Linked DNA regions of Homo sapiens. The protein of the gene in region 1 binds, or shares a complex with, the protein of each later gene. Each region holds a gene or a part of one and is shown on either strand. Other genes may lie near its edges. The genes, in order: VPS52, VPS51 and VPS54.

What was found.
Region 2: VPS52 (region 1) and VPS51 share a complex: the UniProt entries of both Homo sapiens proteins name them as parts of the endosome-associated retrograde protein (EARP) complex.
Region 3: VPS52 (region 1) and VPS54 share a complex: the UniProt entries of both Homo sapiens proteins name them as parts of the golgi-associated retrograde protein (GARP) complex.

The regions. Positions count from the first base shown.
Region 1 is NC_000006.12:33,261,877-33,268,990, forward strand, and holds part of VPS52 (vacuolar protein sorting-associated protein 52 homolog), read right to left. Parts: intron 6,774-7,114; coding exon 6,623-6,773; intron 6,333-6,622; coding exon 6,232-6,332; intron 6,122-6,231; coding exon 5,989-6,121; intron 5,864-5,988; coding exon 5,806-5,863; intron 5,446-5,805; coding exon 5,312-5,445; intron 5,198-5,311; coding exon of another isoform or gene 5,132-5,197; exon of another isoform or gene 4,856-5,131; intron 4,837-4,855; coding exon 4,681-4,836; intron 3,025-4,680; coding exon 2,906-3,024; intron 2,622-2,905; coding exon 2,498-2,621; intron 2,228-2,497; coding exon 2,132-2,227; intron 2,004-2,131; coding exon 1,896-2,003; intron 1,674-1,895; coding exon 1,608-1,673; intron 1-1,607. UniProt on the Homo sapiens protein: Acts as a component of the GARP complex that is involved in retrograde transport from early and late endosomes to the trans-Golgi network (TGN).
Region 2 is NC_000011.10:65,106,100-65,112,362, reverse strand, and holds the end of VPS51 (vacuolar protein sorting-associated protein 51 homolog), read right to left. Parts: intron 4,783-6,263; coding exon 4,636-4,782; intron 4,561-4,635; coding exon 4,341-4,560; exon of another isoform or gene 4,339-4,340; intron 4,167-4,338; coding exon 3,449-4,166; intron 3,084-3,448; coding exon 2,868-3,083; intron 2,659-2,867; coding exon 2,440-2,658; intron 1,882-2,439; coding exon 1,760-1,881; intron 1,670-1,759; coding exon 1,582-1,669; intron 1,037-1,581; coding exon 776-1,036; 3' UTR 501-775; downstream 1-500. Other genes in the region: delta(14)-sterol reductase TM7SF2, read right to left, coding at 296-347. UniProt on the Homo sapiens protein: Acts as a component of the GARP complex that is involved in retrograde transport from early and late endosomes to the trans-Golgi network (TGN).
Region 3 is NC_000002.12:63,891,576-63,897,468, forward strand, and holds the end of VPS54 (vacuolar protein sorting-associated protein 54), read right to left. Parts: intron 1,961-5,893; coding exon 1,855-1,960; 3' UTR 575-1,854; downstream 1-574. UniProt on the Homo sapiens protein: Acts as a component of the GARP complex that is involved in retrograde transport from early and late endosomes to the trans-Golgi network (TGN).

The DNA.
Region 1 (7,114 bases):
CTAAAAATACAAAATTAGCCAGGCATGGTGGCACATGCCTGTAATCACAGCTACTCAGGAGGCTGAGGCAGGAAAATTGCTTGAACCTGGGAGGCGGAGGTTGCGGTGAGCTGAGATCGCACCATCGCACTCCAGCCTGGACAACAAGAACAAAACTCCATCTCAAAAAAAAAAAAAAAAAAAAAAAAAGCTTCTGCACAGCTAAAGAAACAATAAAGTGAAGAGACAAAGAATATTTGCACATCCCATCTGCCAAGGGATTAATAACCAGAATATATAAGGGGCTCAAACAACTCTACATGACAGTCTAATAATCCTATTAAAAAATGGGCAAAAGATTTGAATAGATATTTTTCAAAAGAATACAAATGGCAAACAGACATATATGAAAAGGGGCTCACCATCACTATTATCAGAGAAATACAAATCAAAACTACAATGAGATCTCATCTCACTCCAGTCAGAATGGCTTTTATCCAAAAGACAGGCAATAGCAATGCTGGCAAGGATGTGGAGAAAAGGGAACCCTTATACACTGTTGGTGGGAATGTAGATTAGTACAAACACTTTGGAGAACAGTTTGAAGGTTGCTCAAAAAACTAAAAGTAGAGCTACCATATGATTCAGCAATCCCACTGCTGGGTATATACCCAAAAGAAAGGAAATCAGTACATTGAAGAGATATTTGCACTCCCATGTTTGTTGCAGTATTGTTCACAATAGCTAAGATTTGGAAGCAACCTAAGTGTCCATCAACAGATGAATGGGTAAAGAAAATGTGGGATATATACACAATGGAGTACTACTCAGCCATAAAAAAGAATGAGACTCAGTCATTTGCAACAACATGCATAGAATTGGAAATTATTATATTAAGTGAAATAAGCCAGGCACAGAAAGACAAACGTCATGTGTTCTCACTGATTCGTGGAATCTAAAAATCAAAACAATTGAACTCATGTACTCATGTACGAAGAGAGTAGAAGGATGGCTACCAGAGGCTGGGAAGGCTAGTGGAAGGCTGGGGAGAAGGTGGGGATGATTAATGGGTACAAACAAAAATAGGAAGAATAAATAAGACCTACTATTTGACAGCACAACAGGGTGACTATAGTCAATTATAACTTAATTGTACATTTTAAAATAACTTAGTGTAATCGGATTGTTTATAACACAAAGGATAAATGCTTGAGAGGATAGATAAAGAAAAAAATAAAATTCATTCTAAAAATAAAAAATTAGCTAGGCATGGTGGCTCGCACCTGTGGTCCCAGCTACCCAGGGGGCTAAGGTAGAAGGATCACTTAAGCCCAGGCTGTTGAGGCTGCAGTGAGCCATGTTCATGCCACTGCACTCCAGCCTGGGTGACAGAGTGACACTTTGCCTCAAAAAAAAAAAAAAAAAAAAACCAAAGACAAAATAAAATAAAATAGACCAATAATGACAGTATGTTGTGAATCAAGAGTTACAGTAATTCCGCATACCTGAGATCCATTATGCCACTCCCTACACACACACACACACACACACACACACACAGAGAGAGAGAGAGAGAGAGCTGAAAACAGCACAGAAGGCTGTCTCTTCCCTTTTCCCCACACCCCTACCTGTGTCCGAGCATTGAGCAGCTGCTGGAAGCTCTCAACCTCTTTGCTGTCATCTGCAGCCCGCTCCTAAGGGAAGACAAAGGGAAATGTCTAGTTTGGGGAAAGCAGTCCTTCACTTCAGGATGTCCCCTTCATTCCACACTTATTGTACTAAGCTGGACACTGTGCCAGACTCCAAGAGTAAAACACTGAACAAGACAGGCATCATCTCTGCCCTCACAGAGCTAACAGCAGTGGGGGAAACCGAATTTTCTGGGTAGGAAGGCAAGGAGAAGGAGCACCTATTACCATCAGCACACCCAGCATCATGTCATAGTTGTTGATCAGAAACACAAGCTGCTCCTTCCTTGAGGAGAACTCAGCTGCCACTCGGAGGACAAAATTCTCCACCTCCACCTGAAAAGGCAGAGAGGAAGAGGTGACACCAGAAAGCAAGGTCATCTGGGCCCCATCTGGCTCCTCCTCAGACTCCACCCACTGGAAGCAGCCCTGCTGCTGGGAAGTGTCTCCTGTCCGACCCTCACCTGCAGCTGTCCCAGCAATTGCATGGTCCGTTCATTAGGAATTGTCTGGTTGATACTGACAAGAGCGGAGGAGAACTCTGCATAGCGGCGTGTGATCTAGGAGAGAGTGGGAAGGAAAATCACACCCACCTCCTGGCCCAACCAACACAACCTCCCAACTTCCTTAGCCAACCCACCTCCATGTGATGTGACTCTACCTTCAGTCCCTCCTACCCACAGTGCACCACTCACCATGAGTTTCACCACCCTCCCAGAACACCTGCTCATAGCGTGGCCCATGACACAACTGTGACCTTGGCCAACCCCCACAATGATGCTTAGAGCCCTGCCTTTCAAGAACCCTTTGTTACCCTTGCCCTCCCTCACATAGTGGGGCCGAGTATCCAACCCCCCTAGGCGCTGGGGGTCAGTGCTTCGGACGCTCTGAACATTCATCTCCAGGATCAGTTCAAACCGTGGCCATAGCAAGGCAAGCACCTGTTCCCAGTACCTGTGGGCTTAATCAGAATCAGAGGTCAGCCAGCAAGGAATGTTGGAGGGGGATGGGAGGGAGTGGGGCATCATTCAGTTTAATGGTCAATAGCTAGTTGTGGGGGTTGGGGGGCAGTGGTTGGAGAAAGGTGAGTCAAAAAGCAGCACTACTGCCTCCGGAGCAAATGAATGGGAATAAAGGTTGATGATACCAGGTCAGTAGGAGTCTAAGGTCAGGGCAGAGTCATGCAAGACCAAGAGAGTTCGTGGCCTGTTGGGCATCAAGGACCAGAATTCAGTGACCTGTCCAGGGCAGGAACATCCCTCTTTGCTGCAATGTTACGGAACCGGAGAACAATGTGGATACAGAGAAAAACAGCAATGGCATCGTAGCAGTCAGCTAGATAAGAATCCAGGTGTTTCTGTGTGATTGGGGAACAAACAGAGGATTAAAAGAGAATGTCAGTTTGTTGTCCTCAGTGACTATGAACAAACGCATTTGTTTCTTTGGGGATGATGCACTGGACAGGACAGAAGGGAGAGACGTAAAATGGAACTGCCCCCTGCTTTCCTGTCCAGGATCTATGTTTTTGGCTTTTTTTTTGTTTTTTGAGATAGAGTTTCACTCTTGCCACCCAAGCTGGAATGCAGTGGCACAATCTCGGCTCACTGCAACCTCCGCCTGCCTCCCAGGTTCAAGCAATTCTCCTGCCTCAGCCTCCTGAGTAGCTGGAATTATAGGCGCCTGCCACCACGCCCGACTAATTTTTGTATTTTAGTAGAGATGGGGTTTCATCATGTTGGTCAAGCTGGTCTCGAACTCCTGACCTCAGGCGATCCGCCCACCTCAGCCTCCTAAAGTGCTGGGATTACAGGTGTGAGCCACTGCACCCGGTGTTTTCGGCTTTAGAGACAGGTTGTTTTGTCACCTAGGCTGGATTGTAATGGTACAATCATAGTTCACTGCAGCCTCAAACATCTGGGCTCAAGTGATGTTCCCACCTCAGCCTGCCAAGCAACTGGGACCATGGGTGTGTACCACCATGCCTGGTTAAGTTTATTTTTAAATTTTTTGTAGAGACAAGGTCTTGCCGCATTGCCCAGGCTGGTCTCGAACTCCTGGCCTCAAGCAACCTTCCTGCCTTGGTCTCCCAAAGTACTGGGATTGCAGGCATAAGCCACTGCACCTGGCCACACCAGGATCTATGATCACAAGCCTATCACAGCAGAGTTCAGGGCTGAGCTTGGGTCAGGGGTTTGAGCACCAAGATTTGGGGGACCCTCAGTTTTCACGTGCTATTGCCTGATTGTGGGTCAGCAGTAGGGGTAGTCTCAGGGACCCTACGCACTGAGGATTTCATGGGGGAGTAACACTGTGACAAGTCTAAGTAACAAGTTTTTTTTTTGAGATGGAGTCTCGCTCTGTCACCCAGGCTGGAGTGCAATGGCGCAATCTTGGCTCACTGCAATCTCCTCCTCCCAGGTTCAAGCAATCCTCCTGCCTCAGCCTCCCGAGTAGCTGGGATTACAGGCCGCGCACACCTGGCTAATTTTTGTACTGTTAGTAGAGACAGGGTTTCATCATGTTGGTCAGGCTGGTCTCAAACTCCTGACCTTGTGATCCTCCCGCCTCAGCCTCCCAAAGTGCTGGGATTACAGGCGTAAGCCACTGCACCTGGCTATTTTTTTTTTTTTTTTTTTTTGAGACAGGTCTCACTCTGGAGTGCATGGCTCACTGCAGCCTTGACCTCCTGGGCTCAAGCAATCCTTCCACCTCAGCATCTTTAGTAGCTGTGACCACAGGCACACATCAACACACACCCGGCTAATTTTTCATTTTTTGTAGAGATGAGGTTGTTGCCCAGGCTGGTCTCAAACTCCTGAGCTCAGGCAATCCTACTGCCTTGGACTCCCAAAGTGCTGGGATTATGGGTGTGCACTACCACGCCCAGCCAAGGCTTAGACATTTTAGAATGAGGCGATCCTGATTTCAGTTCTACCAGAGTCATGACCCCACTATGCTGCTGATGAAGACTGGGGACAAAGGTGTTGAATGGTACAGGAAACAGGAGTCTTACCAGGGTCATGCTGAGTGTACGGCCCATGACAGCATGGAACAGGTCGTGTGCAGCTGGGCCAGACACAACAAAAAATTCACAGATGAAAAGGTATTCGCGGCAGGAATTGTCTAGGAGGGCGTAGTGCTGGCTGCGGAAGAGGGCCTCAAATGGATACTGGGAGAGGAGGAGTAAAGAAGAAAAACAGAAGGGATGGACCCCAACACTGACTTCCCATGGATATGGCTGGAAAATCAGTAAACCTGAGTAATAAGAGCTAGGCAGACCCTTCGCATCTATCTAGGTCCGGGCTGTCTAAGAGCAAGCTGAATGGGCACTGAAAAGGTGGGGGAACATAGGGGTACAAAAAGGGCCTACACCCACCTGCTGTTGCTACTCCTGCATCCACCTCAACACCTGCCTCTGACTGTCATTCCCCTCATCCAGTCTCTCCCCTCTGCATGCCCTTAAGTCAATGGTTCCCAGCTCTTTTCACATCACAGCAGGCTGGAGTGATTGGAGAAGGCCACTCCCAAGTCTAAGGGGATTAAGACAGGGCCTGCAGGTTGGGAAGCTCTGCCCTGAGGTCTGGCCTTCCCTCCCCACCGTGCTCAGAGCCTCTTTCGTGACTGAAGCTTGTTCCTCCTCATACCCTCTGCTCTCCGCGCTGCGCTGTGTGAGGCACCAGGATGGGGGCCTCAAGTTCAGTGGGGGAGATGACAGAGCCGCGGGTTCCTAGGGTGAAAATGGTGTTCCTGCTGCGGAGCGATGGCTTTGAGAAGAATCGTAAGATGGGTCAGAGTCAGGGAAAACAATGAGACCATAACTGGGCCCAAAGACTCACTATCTGTGGGGACCCCAGACAGGCAGACGTGGCCTAGCCAGCCCTCTTTCCCAGTACTAGGGCCCCACGTGCTGACATCTGTGAATGGGCTTCAGGGTGTCTCTCCCTCCCTTGCAATCATATGCAAAACTATGTGTCAAAATAATGTGTGCATCTTTCTGGGGAGGGAGGCTATAGCTTTCATCACATTCTAAAAGGTTTCAGTCCCATAGGAAAAGGTAAGGAGCAGTGCATTGGTGGCTGGAGTCGAAAGTCCTCCCACTCTCAAGGCCTGGCATGAGGGTTCCCCAGTACTAGGATATCTTTCTTTGCTGTATCTTCCACACCCATTAGATCATCTTTCTCAGCGACTTCCTCATACTAAGGAAAGAGAAAAGAGAACTGATAACCGTCTCTTCCCACAACACAATAAAATATTCCTTGCCCAGGGATGTCCCCTCCTCCCAGTCCATGTGCCCAGGAATACCTCTCCCTCCTGACCTTACCTGCACCTTCATGAGCCGCCCCAGGTAAGAGCGGTAGTAAGACAGGTAAATCTTGCTCAGCGTCTCCACATATTCATCCCTGATCTCCTTTGCTGTTGCTCGTTCATTGCCCAGCAGAAACTGATAGAAGAACCTAGGGGGTCAGGAACATGTCAGTCTACCTGTCTCCCAAGAAACCAGATGCCCACACTAGGCCGCTCAAAAACTCAAAGGCCATCCCATGCACTTCCTTGGGGTTGTGACCTGTACTTCAGCAGGGCCGTCTGGGGGATCTGATAGTTGGTCATGGGTTTCCTGAAGGAATAAATCTTCTGGAGGATAAACTCTCGGATCTTCGTCACTGCCTAGATGTGGGGAACCAAACACAGGGCATGAAGCTGCAACCCTTTTGCTGTATGAGAGGAACTGGGGGAAGCAACAAATGGTAAACATAGGCAGAAGGGTGGTGAATATCTCTTTGGTATTTCTCAAGATTTTCAGGGAAACCCAGAGAGACAAGAATGGGGCTGCCCAGAAAAGGCAGGGTGAAGTCCCTGGAGACAGGCTACAGTGAGCTCTGCCAAGGAAATCCATAGTGAAGATCTTGGGAAGGCTGCTTCCAGTAGCCTCCAGGGTATCCATCCCTACTTCCCACCTTGACCCGGAGCCGATCGAGCACGCCTCTGACATCTGCGCAGGCTGCTGTGCCTCTAGCTTCCTGCTCTCTGACTGCGGCTGCCTTGGCATCCAGCTCCTGTAGCTGCTCCAAGAACCTGGGCTCTGTCACTGGAGCCTCCAGAATTGCCCTGGTTAGCAGGGAGGGGTGGGATGAGTTACAAGGGAGACCCAGACATCCCTAAACCAGACCCAGACCACACTCCTTACCTCCAGCCCCTGTCATCTCTACCACCTTGCATTGTACCATATAGTCAGGACACATGTACAAAGTTTTCTATTCCTGGACCTCCCCACTATACACCTGATCTTACATCATTCTTAATCTTAATCTTTGATGCCTAATGCATACCTAAAGAAATGGTGGTTAACCTGGCTACTAATTTCTAAAAAGCACTTAACCTGGAGCCAGGAGACCCATATGGTAAATAGGGTGGGTCACCCCAGCCCATCCACCTGCTATGGACATTAT
Region 2 (6,263 bases), on another chromosome or scaffold:
CGCTGCCTCCCAGTTCCCTTCCCAGGCGTCCATCTTAGTCCCCCGCCCCCAGGCCCCTCGAAGACCCTCCTCCTGCTCCCAGTCGACACCATAAATCCCCGTTCTGCAGCCCCCAGAACCGGCCCCTCCTCAGCTCTCCCTCTCCAGACACCCTTCGCTGCAAACCCCCGGGTCCCTCTGCCTCCGACACCCCCAAAGCCTTCCATCCTCAGATCTCGCCCCCGCTCTTAGTTCACCCGCTCCAGCTCTCCTTCGCTTAGCCTTTGCCCCAGGTCCCATCTCTCTGCCCCATTACCCAGGGGCCCTCCGAATTCCAGCGGGGCCCGGGGGCCCTGAGTGGGGGCCATGGTCTCCGCTCCGCCGGAGAGAGAGGGCGCTCACAATAGTCAGTCAAGGAAACACTGTCCGCCCCATTTCCCAGGAGATGGACTCGGCCGCGCGGAGGATCCGGCCCCGCGGCGCCTGCACCTGCCTGGACACGGAACGCAGACAAGGACCGCTCTCGTCCCAGGGTTTTTAAGTGGAACCGCCCCCTGCCCATGCTGGGCCCAGCACACCAGCCAATCGGCGCTCGGGGGCGGACCCGACGCGGGCGCCTCAGAAGCCTCAGCTTCAAAACCCCGCCCCCGGAAAGGCCCGCCCAGCAAGCGAGAGGAGGAGGCCACACATGTTTATTAGGCCGGTCCTGACACCTGCCTGCGGGGAAGGACCACCGAGACCAGATCCTGGGTGCCATGGGGTGCAGGGACAGACCGGTGCATGGCAGCGGCTGCGCCTAGCCGCGCTCGCAGATGACCTCAACCACACTGGGCTCCATGGGCACAGGGTCTGGGCAGCGCAGGGCAGCAGAGGCCACCACTTCGTCCAGCAGCAAGTGCACGAGTTCTTCGTCGGCCACAAAACGCCACAGGTAGAGCTGCAGAAAGTGGCAGTCCACTTGCACCTGCTGCAGCCCGAAGCGCCCAAAGGTGCGCAGCCGCACACACTCCAGCAGCGTCTTCAGGCTGATCTTGATGATGCCGGTCAGCACCGACACCTGCAGGCAGGGACACAGGGATGCAGCTTGGGGACTGCAGGTGTGTGTGGGGGACACCCAAGTTCCAAGCAGGGGCCCGGGAGACATACGATGGAAGTAGCTGGGATGAGGCAGAAAGTCTCCGGGGCCAGATAAGAAGGGAGGGATACAATATTAGCGCCGTCATCTGGAGGGCAGGGGACAGGTAGGGCCCAGCAATCAGAGGCATCCCTGAGCTTGGAGTGAGGCGGGGCAGGGACCATGGGTGAACAGAAAACCCTGGGGAGGACCCAAGACTACTGTGGGGATAAGGACAAGGGCAAACAGTAATCCCAGGTCAGCACCCAGACTCAGGCTGGGCATACACCAAGACTGGGACAAGGGCTGTGGGATTTGGAGGCAGGGCACTCTGTACTACCTAAAAACAGCCCTAGAGACAGAGACTGGAGGGTCAGGGTCACCCCCAGTTGGTCACAGAGTCCTGGGGCTCCTTGGGCAGGTGTGGGGCTGCTCCAGCCAACCCTCCCCGGGATCCCTGGAAGTCTGAGTCACGTTGGAAGTCGGACCTTGTTGAACTCCACAGGGCTGAACACATCAATACGTTCAGAGAATAGCTTCTGGATATTGCTCAAGAGGTTGGTGTCCATCGGGGCACTGGATTGGGGAAGACAAGGAATCAGAGCCCGCCCTGCACCCTCGCCCTCTTTTGTCCCTTCCCCCTGGGGCTCCCCTGACCAGCCAGACCTGGGGGTATAGCTGGGGGCGTAGCGGCCCTGCTGCCGAGAGCTGCTGTACACGGAGAAAGTCCTCTTGCTGGAGTCGCTGCTCTGGGCCTTGCGAACACCCTCTTCGTACAGGAGCCCCACCTGGTGGTAAAAAGAGGTACTGCAAGGAGGCCCGAGTCAGGGGAAACCACCAGCCCATCGGTGCTGAGGATGCCCTAAGTCAGCTACTCAAGCATCACAAGGATCACAGGGTAATCACCGCGGGGCCCGCTATTTAGTAGGTACATGGTCGCTATTTATAGAACCAGTGGAGTGGGGCAAAGGCAGGATACAAGAGTTGGTCTGAGGTCTAATCTTCAGCACCAGCACCAACCCTGCCCTGACTTCCTGGGTAACCCTGAGCCTCTGCTTCTCCACAGGTAAAATAGGGGCGAAGATGTCATAATCCTGGGCTGAGAAGGAACAAGACCGTGGACATAGGCACTCCCCAGCCCGTTTGGTCTTCATCCTTGGAGACTTGTTCCCCTGGGGTTCCCTCACGGACGCCCTGGCTACAGAACTGGCCCCGTGAGAAGCCCAGATACACATGTCCCCTCCTCCAGGCAGGGACTGCCAGTGATCCTCTGCTGCCCCAGCCCCTCTTGAAGGGACAGTACCCCCAGCCTGCGTCAGGGCTACCCCGGCCAGCCTGGGCAGCACCTGCACGTCGATGGCGGTGGTATCCTCCACCACCCGCTTCATGACGGCCCGCACATTCCGGGGCTCCAGAGTGCTGAGCCAGTCGCGAGTCTCCACGCTCTTGCGCAGCATCTGTGATATGACCAGGCCCTGCACCTTCACGTAGTGGGTCAGCAGCCGCCGCGCCGTTTCCCTGGCCTCTGCACACAGCGTGCTCACGGGCGTCACTGGGAACTGATCCTGAGCCAAGGAGGCAGAGGACAGAGGGAGTGGGTATGGTGGGGGCAGCTCAGGGGCCACTGCCAACCAGGAGCTGGGCACAGATTGGGCAAGGTGGAGGCTGGGGTACACACAGGCAGCTGGTCTGGGGTCTGGCCATGAGGGCACTGTCCAGCCATCTGCATTCCCAGCAACACCATTCCCTGCCCGGCTAGGAGCTAGTGCTTCACCTGCACCAGAAACTGTTCATCAGTGAGAGTGAGGATGTAGGAGATGGTGGCCGTCTCGTAGTCCAGGCAGAGGCGGGAGAGCAGCAGGAGCAGGGCAGGTGGTGTGGCACCCCCCTTCTCCCCAGGGCTGTCGCAGAAGCTCTGAGCCGTCTGGCACATAGAGTGGACGAAGCCCACGATGAGGCCCTCACGGACACCCTGACTGCAGAACTCACCCTGCAAGAGAAGGTGCCCAGGTCCACAGCAGGTCCCCTCTTCCAGGTAAGGCTGTTAATGACCCTCTGCTGGGGCTCTAAGTGCCCCAGCCCCCTCTGCAAGGGACAGCATCATCCTACATTCTAAGTACCCCGGAGCAGCTTCCCTGAGTGGGGGCAGAGAAAGCCAACACTGGGGACCCCACCATGCCCTGCTTCTCAGCCCAGCTGCAGATGCCCTGAGCCTTCCCCACCCCCCAGACCGTGCATAAGAACCTGAAACCACACCCAGAGTGCCTGGTTTCCCCAGTTTCCCAAGCACTGGCATAAAAGGTTTTGGAGGGTCAACCAGCAGGTTGAACAAGGAACACCCAAGAGGAGGCGTACCCGGAAGTAGGGCTTGTTGGAGAAGGACACCTCTTTGGCGGTGAAAAGGTGCACTGCTGCCAGAGAGGCCTTAATGTGGCTCAGGATGGAGCTGGCCACATTGGCCAGCAACTCGGCCAGGCCAGGGCCCTCCTTCCCAGCCACGCGAGGTGCTGCCAGCGCCTGGCGGACGTCTGTCAGGCAGCCCAGGAAGGCCGCCCGGAGACCCTGCAGGTGGTGGCCCAGGCGCTCGCGGGCCACTCGTTCCACGATCTCCGTGGCAGCGTCTGCGAGCCCGGCAGCGGCCAGCAGGGCCCCGGGAGCCCGCAAGCGCCGGTGGAAGCGGTCCAGCGCCCGCACCAGCAGTGAGTTGTCACCACCACCCTGCTCCTGCGCCAGCCGCCGCTCCACCAGCGCAAAATAGCGGCTGCCCAGCTGCCGGGCGAAGGCCGCCAGCTTCTCGGCACCTGCTGGGCCCTGGGCCGCAAACAGCTCCTGGTAGGCCGCCGCCACCTGGCAGAGGCCGCCCACGAAGCCACTGCCTCCATGGTCGGTGAACTCTAACACGTCGGGAGCCGGAGGTGAGGGCCCCAGCTCGGCCTCCAGGTTTCTCAGCTCCTTCTCCAGCCGGCCGCGGGCGTGCGCCAGGAACTCCTCGCACAGCTCCTCCGCAGGCTCGCCCAGGGCCAGCAGCAGCTCCACGCACTCTGCCTGCTCCGGGGCGCCTGAGCCGCCCTCCCTGCACGAGGGAGAGGTAGTGAAGGGCAGGGCCGGGGCTGCCGGTGGATGGGGCAGGAGCAGGAAAGCAAAGCACACACAGGGCAGGGGGACAGCTCCAGGAGGGCCCAGGAGCCGGGCACAGATGGGGCTCGGGGCTGGCGGGAGCGCTGGGGTCAGGGCAGAGGGGCCACACCTAAAGCGCTGCCGCAGCTGCTGGGCCAGGCGGGCCGTGATGACCTGGCAGTCGTCCTGGATGGCGCGGAACGAGGGCAGGTGTTGGTACTGCTGCAGCACGGCCTGCGCGCGGCCCTGGTAGCGCACCGCCTGCCCATAGGCGCCCAGTTCCACGCACTTGGTGAGGCGCGAGGGCAGCTCAAAGAGGAACTGCAGCTTCCGCAGCAGCGCGTGGACCCCTGGGGGACGGAGGGTGACGTTAGCCCCAGAGCCCCAGGAAAGGCCCACTGCAGGCCCTGCCCGGCAGCGCCCACCTGCCAGCTTGGTGATGCGCTCGTGGCGGTCCTGCAGCGTGGCGCTGATGCGAGCGCTGAAGTCGGTGATCACTGCCATGTTGGTGGCCAGCCGGTCCATCTCATCCTCCATCTTCCGGAAATCGTTCTTCATCTTCCGGATGGTGTCTAGGAGGGCAGGGGCGGGGAAAAGGGGAGAGCAGGTGACTGCAGGGCGGGCGCAACCTCAGCTCCTTCTCACCCACCCCTTCACAGACGCCCCAGCTTGCTCCAGGGGCGCATGGATGATTCCAGAGAAAGGACTGCGAGGGCGTGGGTCACAGCGCACATGGGGGCGGGGGAGGGGGTTTATGTTCCCAAAGCAGGCGTTACTCACATACTCCCCGTAACCCCCTAACCCTGGTGCCCAGGAGAGCCGGCCCTCAGAATTAGTCCAGATCCGAAGCAGGCCGCAGGTGCTTAGCCAGCTGCCACCACTGTGCCTCAACTGCTCCATCAGACCACAAGCAGCCAAGGCAGGGACCGCTGGCTCCCAAGCGCATCTGCGTGTCCAGCGCACTGCCTGGATGAGGCAATACATTCTTGTTGACCCTCATCTCCTTTCCAGACCTCCCAAAGCCTTTCACATGCTTTCCGGAACATGGGCTGTCTTCTCTGAAGGGCCCTTTCCCTTTGGTCCTGATAGAATCCTGCCTAGGGAGGCTGTTTTTCCTTTCACACACCAGGTGCCTGGGAGCCTGGTCCCTTCATGCTTCTAAATCATGCCTAGATCTCCTCTCTTCAAAACCCCGGCTTCTAGGAAGACCATGCCATCAAGCCACAACCCTCCTCTTTGCTGTCTCTACTGTCCTCTGACACTCCTCTCAGTTCCCCATCACTGCCTCTTCTCCTCCTCCTGTCACCTCCTTGTGCACATCCACATGGATGAGCCTTCCAATGTTCCTGACTGTTCACTGACGGCCTCAATTCAATTCCACCTATTCTTTTTTTTTTTTTTTGAGACTGAGTCTCGCTCTGTCGCCCAGACTGGAGTGCAGTGGCACGACCTCTGCTCACTGCAAACTCCAATTCCCAGGTTCACACCATTCTCCTGCCTCAGCCTCCCAAGTAGCTGGGACTACAGGTGCCTGCCACCACACCCAGCTAATTTTTTGTATTTTTAGTAGAGATGGAGTTTCACCATGTTAGCCAGGATGGTCTTGATCTCCTGACCTCATGATCCGCCCACCTTGGCCTCCCAAAGTGCTGGGATTACAGGCATGAGCCACCGCACCCGACGAGGTCTGATGGTTTTATAAGGGGCTCTCCCTGCTTCGCTTAACACTTCTCCTTCCTGCTGCCTTGTGAAGAAGATGCCTTGCTTCTCTTTCACCTTCTGCCATGATTGTAAGTTTCCTGAGGCCTCCCCAGCCATGCTGTGAACTGTGAGTCAATTAAACCTCTTTCCTTTATAAGTTACCTAGTCTCGGGCAGTTCTTTACAGCAGTATGAACCTGGATTAATATACCTAGTAATCAATCCATTACCAAGTCATGGAAGGTCTACCTGCAACATTTTCTTTGTAAGCCACTATCATCTCTTGTCCAACAACTGCCAACATTTCCCAACTAATTTCCCTAATTCCATTGAACATACCAACAATGTTCATA
Region 3 (5,893 bases), on another chromosome or scaffold:
GTACTTTATAATGCTAACTATAAACTGGTTTATTGTTGTTAGACAGTTACTATATTAGTTGGAAGATTTGCCCTTTAAGTACACACTGGCTAGTTACCTAGCCAGTGTGTACTTAATGAGTCCAGTTTTTGGCATTTCTAAGAATCTTAATCATACCATTATTTCCACAGGAATTAAACTGAAGGTATTTTCTTTAGTACCTACCTTTCATCTAGTTCTAAAACTGGGATGCCTGCCATGCTTTCCACAAACTCTCCATTTATTGAAACAAAGTGGCATTTATTTTCCCAGCTGACGGGGGTGGGCAAAGGGAAGGCATTTCTTCACATCCTTGTACTCTTCTATAGTGAGGTAGGGGGTATAGCTTCATAAAAAGTTCCCTTTCCCTGAAGCTTCATTTCCTGAAGCTTGTTTATTATCACTGAAAAAATGATCATTAATAATCTTTCCATTCAGGTCTGCTGGTAGTTCAATTTATGCCTTTTCTTTAAATTCATCCATACTTGTTTTGAGTAGGCTGCTTGTTTAAAGTTCACAATATACCACTTAAAAAAAAGTTGCCTTTTAAAGTCTGTTAATTTTTTACAGCTTTATTTTAGACAGATAGTTTAAGAACCAAAGACATACCTCTGTAATGATAAAGGAAAGAAAACAAGCTTTCCTTTTAAGAAACCAAAGAGCACAAAATAAGACTGTTTCATTATACATAATCACCACAGGATATTAGGCACTCTGACAGGGTTAGGCAAGATTCTTGGTGTGAGGTGAAGCACAGGCACTTTATTTGTACAGTGCTGCTGATTCTAATTTTGAAGGTAGGTATTATAAAAGTCTTTACTTGTCACCTTATTTCTGGCCCCAACACAGCAGCCTATAGTTTTAAAAGTTCTGTTTCTCCCTGGTCTTTGTTCGTATACACATCGAAAGTAACTTAAAAACAAGGATCCAAGGGGGCCATACTTCATATGTTATCTAAATGTTAATATGAGAACTCAAAAGTAGGCAGATTATATGAATACATATTCTTACCTCTGCTACAAATAAAAACACCCCAAACCCTTCATCATACTTTTATAAAAATACAGATATTAAACTGTAGCCTTTTATATACCATTTCTGAAAAGTATTTAGTTGCATAAATAGATGCCAGGATCTTTTTTTTTAAGTATTAATTACTTAAAAAAAGGCTTAAGTCTTTCAGGTATTTAGAGAGCTCTGGAAGGCTTTACCCAGTTGACATACGGTGGTAGTAGAAATATTAAATATGCAACACACAAAGCCTGCAACTTGACATTGGTCACTGAAACAAAAATTGAATTCCTAAATCCAAGCAATCAAAAGATGTTTATTTTTTATAGAAAGATCTGTAAAAAAATAATAATTTTTCAAACAGCTTTACTTTCATAGAGAAAACTTTCTACAGAAGTTGACTAAGATTTTAAATTGTACCATCATTAAATAAGGTGGGACACCATATGAATTTCATTGCACTGGAAGAAATGCAAAGCATTTTTTAATATAAAGTATACAGAGCATTCTAGTCAACTACAGCTGTGTTACAGCTATGTGTTCTTTTGGATTTGGTCCAAAGAAACCTGAGTCTGTTTCCAGAGAGAATGAAAAATGTTATAGACACCTGATCAGTTACTCCTCACTGTAGGATGCACAAAAATGACATTCCTTGTAGATCCCACTGAATCCAGTTTCCCAACACTTGATACTTTCCTTTTTCCCTTCCCCCACCCCAGTTCACTTTGGGTTTCAGGTTCAATTCTCGAATCACAGGCATCCAGATTTTCTTCATAACAAACACATCCCATGGTCAGATGAACTACCCAGTTTTCCAGGATGACATCACCTCTTCTGCTCCCAAATTTCGGCCATATTTAGGTCCAAATCTTTAAGGCCTTTTAAGGCTTGAAGATTTCCAGTGTAAAAAGCTACATCTGCTGTGACCAACCTAAATAATGGAGAGAAAATTATTTTTTAAATCTCAAACTTTCTATTCAGATAATTAAAGTAACAGTGCTCACCGAGTCAGAGTCCTATTATCTAAAATTCAGATTTCTTAGTGCCCAAGTGTCCAAATACTTTACTTAGCAGGATTCCTGCTATGAATAAGTAGGCCATTTAATGCTGTACTTCAATAATAAATATTTGGAAAATGAATAAACCAATGGCTGTTAGAGTCAGTTTCATGATAAATTCAGCCCAAGAAAATCAGATTTATCTTGAAACAGCATGAATTAATATACAGAGAAAATAACAGGCTAAACTAAAATGTTTTTGATTGGTTAGCACTAGAGTATGGGAGTGCTGACTAAAATAGTAAACTCAAGGGAAAAGCAGGCTAGGTTTCTAAGTGTCATCTAAGGCGTTAAATACAGACTAGTATTCATGTATATAAGCGATACTGGATATTTCTTTAAAAACCCAAGAGAAAAATAGGAAAGAACATAAGAAGTCACAGATGAAAACACCTGAATAACCAATAAACTGAAAAAATGGTAAACGTCAGGAAAATGCAAATCAAAACAAGGTACTACTATCCCCCATCAGACTAGCAACAATTAGGAAATCTAACAGCAAATGTTGAAAAGATGTGGGAAACAAATTCTCACAAACTACTCCACTAATGTGGGAGTTGGTACAGCCACTGTCAATACCTAACAATATGAAAAGTGTATTAGCTCCAATTCACTTATAGGTATATGCCCTGAAGAAATGGTCACACCATTAGACATGTATAAAGATCTTCAGTATGGCATGGTTATAATGGAAAAAAGTAATGACTTAGCAATTTATCACTAGGGGAAATGTCTAATTTATCTATGGCTGATTCATGGCCAGGAGCAGTGGCTCACACCTGTAATCCCAGCACTTGGGGAGGCTGAGGCAGGAGGATCACCTGAGCTCAGGAGTTTAAGACCAGCCTGGGCAACATAGTGAGACCTCGTCTCTACAAAAAATTAAAAAAATTAGCTGGGTGTGGTGCCACACACCTGTAGTCGCAGTTATTGGGGAGTCTGCAGTGGGAGGATTGCTTGAGCCACGGAGGTTGAGGCTGCAGTGAGCCATGATCACACCACTGCCCTCCAGCCTGTGTGACCATGAGACCCTGTCTCCAAAAAAAAAAAAAAGGTTGTTTGATGGAATACTGTACAGCAGTCAAAAACAGACTACTAAACATATATCAACATAGATAAATCAGTAAAAATGCCTAGTAGAAAGCAAGCTGCATATATGCAATATACCATATAAGTAAATTTACAAAACAGCACTACATATTTTTCATAAATCTAGGTACAATAAATAAGACTAAAAGAATGTAGACTAAATTCACTGGAAATGTTACCTAAAGGCTGGGAGAAAAAGGGAATCGGACTGCAGATGGGGTGTAAAGGTGTACTTAGCTTCATCTGGAATGCAATTTTTTGAATACCATTTTAAAAATACAATAAATATTTTTTTCAAGAGAAAATGACAAATGTTGATCAATTCTGGGTAGTAGAAATATAAATAATTTATTATTCTCTGTATGTGTCTATTTTTAAAATATCTTAGAGGAAAAAAAATCACATTAAAAAGTACAGAGCTGGGCCGGGTGCAGTGGCTCATACCTATAATCCCAGCACTTTGGGAGGCCGAGGCAGGCAGATCACCTGAGGTCAGGAGTTTAAGACCAGCCTGGCCAACATGGTAAAACCGTCTCTACTAAAAATACAAAAAGTAGCCAGGCGTGGTGGCACGTGCCTGTAATCCCAGCTACTTGGGAGGCTGAGGCAGGAGAATTGCTTGAACCTGGGAGGTGGAGGTTGCAGTGAGCTGAGATCACGCCACTGCGCTCCAGCCTGTGTGACAGAGTGATACTCCATCTCAAAATAAAATCAAAGTACAGGGCTGGGGAGAGGGAGAAATAGGAAGCAGCTGCCTAATGGGTACAGGATTTTCTTTTGGAGTAGTGAAAATGTTTGGAACTAGATAGAGGTGGCGGTTACGCATCACTGTGAAGACACTAAGTGCCACTGAATTGTTCACTTTAAAATAGTTAATTTTATGTTATGTGAATTTCACCTCAAAAAAAGTCAAAAGCTACATTTTTAGAGCAATTTCAGAAACAAAAACTTTTAAGCAGGTAGTTTATGTCCTTGGCTACAGGGTAGAGGTTAATCTTCAGGGATATTTCAAAGACATGAATTGACTTATAAAGAATGAGTTTCTGTTAGCATGTGACAGTGAGGATTCTCTAAGGTCAGACTGACTTCCAAATAGCTATATTAAGAAAGAAAAGTAACAGCTAACGAGTTAGCTTGGGTGCTTCAGAACTACTGGTCTACAAAAACCCAACTAACCAACCCAGATTTAGTTATGGGAATAAAAGTAAAAGGGTATGAGCAGGGTTAGGCCTTAAAAATATTATTAGCTTTTTTTGAACAGCCTCTTTAAGGTACCCAGTATACATCTCTACCAAGAGTCTCCTAAGTTTCTAATATGCTATTATCTTTTCAGGAGCAGGTCTCTTATGTATGTACCATTTGTATCATCTGACATCAAGTGAGAGATATACACAGCGTCACCACATGTGATGTTCTTGCTGAAAATATCTGACTCTATGTTGGTATAACGCTATTAATGTTGATTTTCTTAGGTGGGGTTCAGGTATTACGGTTGTATAAAAATGTCCTTGTTTTTAGAGACACATGCCAAAGTATTTAAGGGTTAAATTTTATGACTGCAGCCTACTTTTTTGGTTGTTTGTCAAAAGGGAGGTATGGGGGTGGGAGGGAGAAGGAGCAAAAGTGGCAGAGAGTATGTGGCAAAATTTTAACAGTTGATAAATCTAGGTAAAAGCTATTCAGTGTTCATTATTGTCCTTTAAGTGTTCCATGGCTTTGAAATTTTTGAAAACAAATAATTCTTTAAAAAGAAAAAGAAGAATCAGATAATAAGACTATCATTCTTGCATAAAACTCTTAAATTCAGCCTAACAGATTCAACAGAATGAAGCTTTCACATAGCTCTTTGCAAAATTGATTCACTGTACTTCTTCTTAAATGGCAGGGCCAACTTCTGACCCCAACATACATTTTTTTCATTTTCCATTTGTTCTTATAAGTTTGAAATTTGAGCCTGAAATTCCTTTAACAGGAAATAAAATTTTATTCCTAAAAACCCTAGAACACTAAAGAATTGATATTAATACGTAACTAAATGATCAGTGCTTTAAATTTTATAAAATCTCTTCCCCATATCTTTATCTACATAACTCTTCAAAAAATCCTATTAAGGAAACTTTTATCATCATCCCTATTTTCAAATCTAAAAAACCTAAGCTGAGGGGGAGTAAGTGATTTGCCCAAAGTTACAACAGCTAGTAAGTGACAGAACTAGAACTTAACCCAAGTTTTCAGATTCTAAGTCCTACCCTATGCTTTCTATGTACTATGCTATTTTACAGTAATATATACAATCTTTCAATAGCTTACAATAAAATATATACATATACACACATATATTATTTTTCATAACCCTGTGAAAGAATTAAGACAGATTTCATCCTTGTTATTTTATAAATGTGGCACACAGGTTAAGTGACATTCACATGGTCACACAGTAGGACTTCTGAATCCTGTTTGGAATAGGGAAAGCTATTGGGTAACTAAGGAAGTGCTACTAATTCACACTGCCTCAAAACAGATACATAACGTCAGGTAAGCAATTGTCCATGTATAAACCCCTTTTAGATAGTTAGATAGAAACAGATATTTCCACAGGGGAAAAAAAAAACACAAAAGCTTGCTGATTTTACAACGTTGGTCTTCAGTGTGATTACAGCAGAAAAGGATGGCACAAATAATCAAAACTGATCATTAAAACAATTCGATATGGGAGT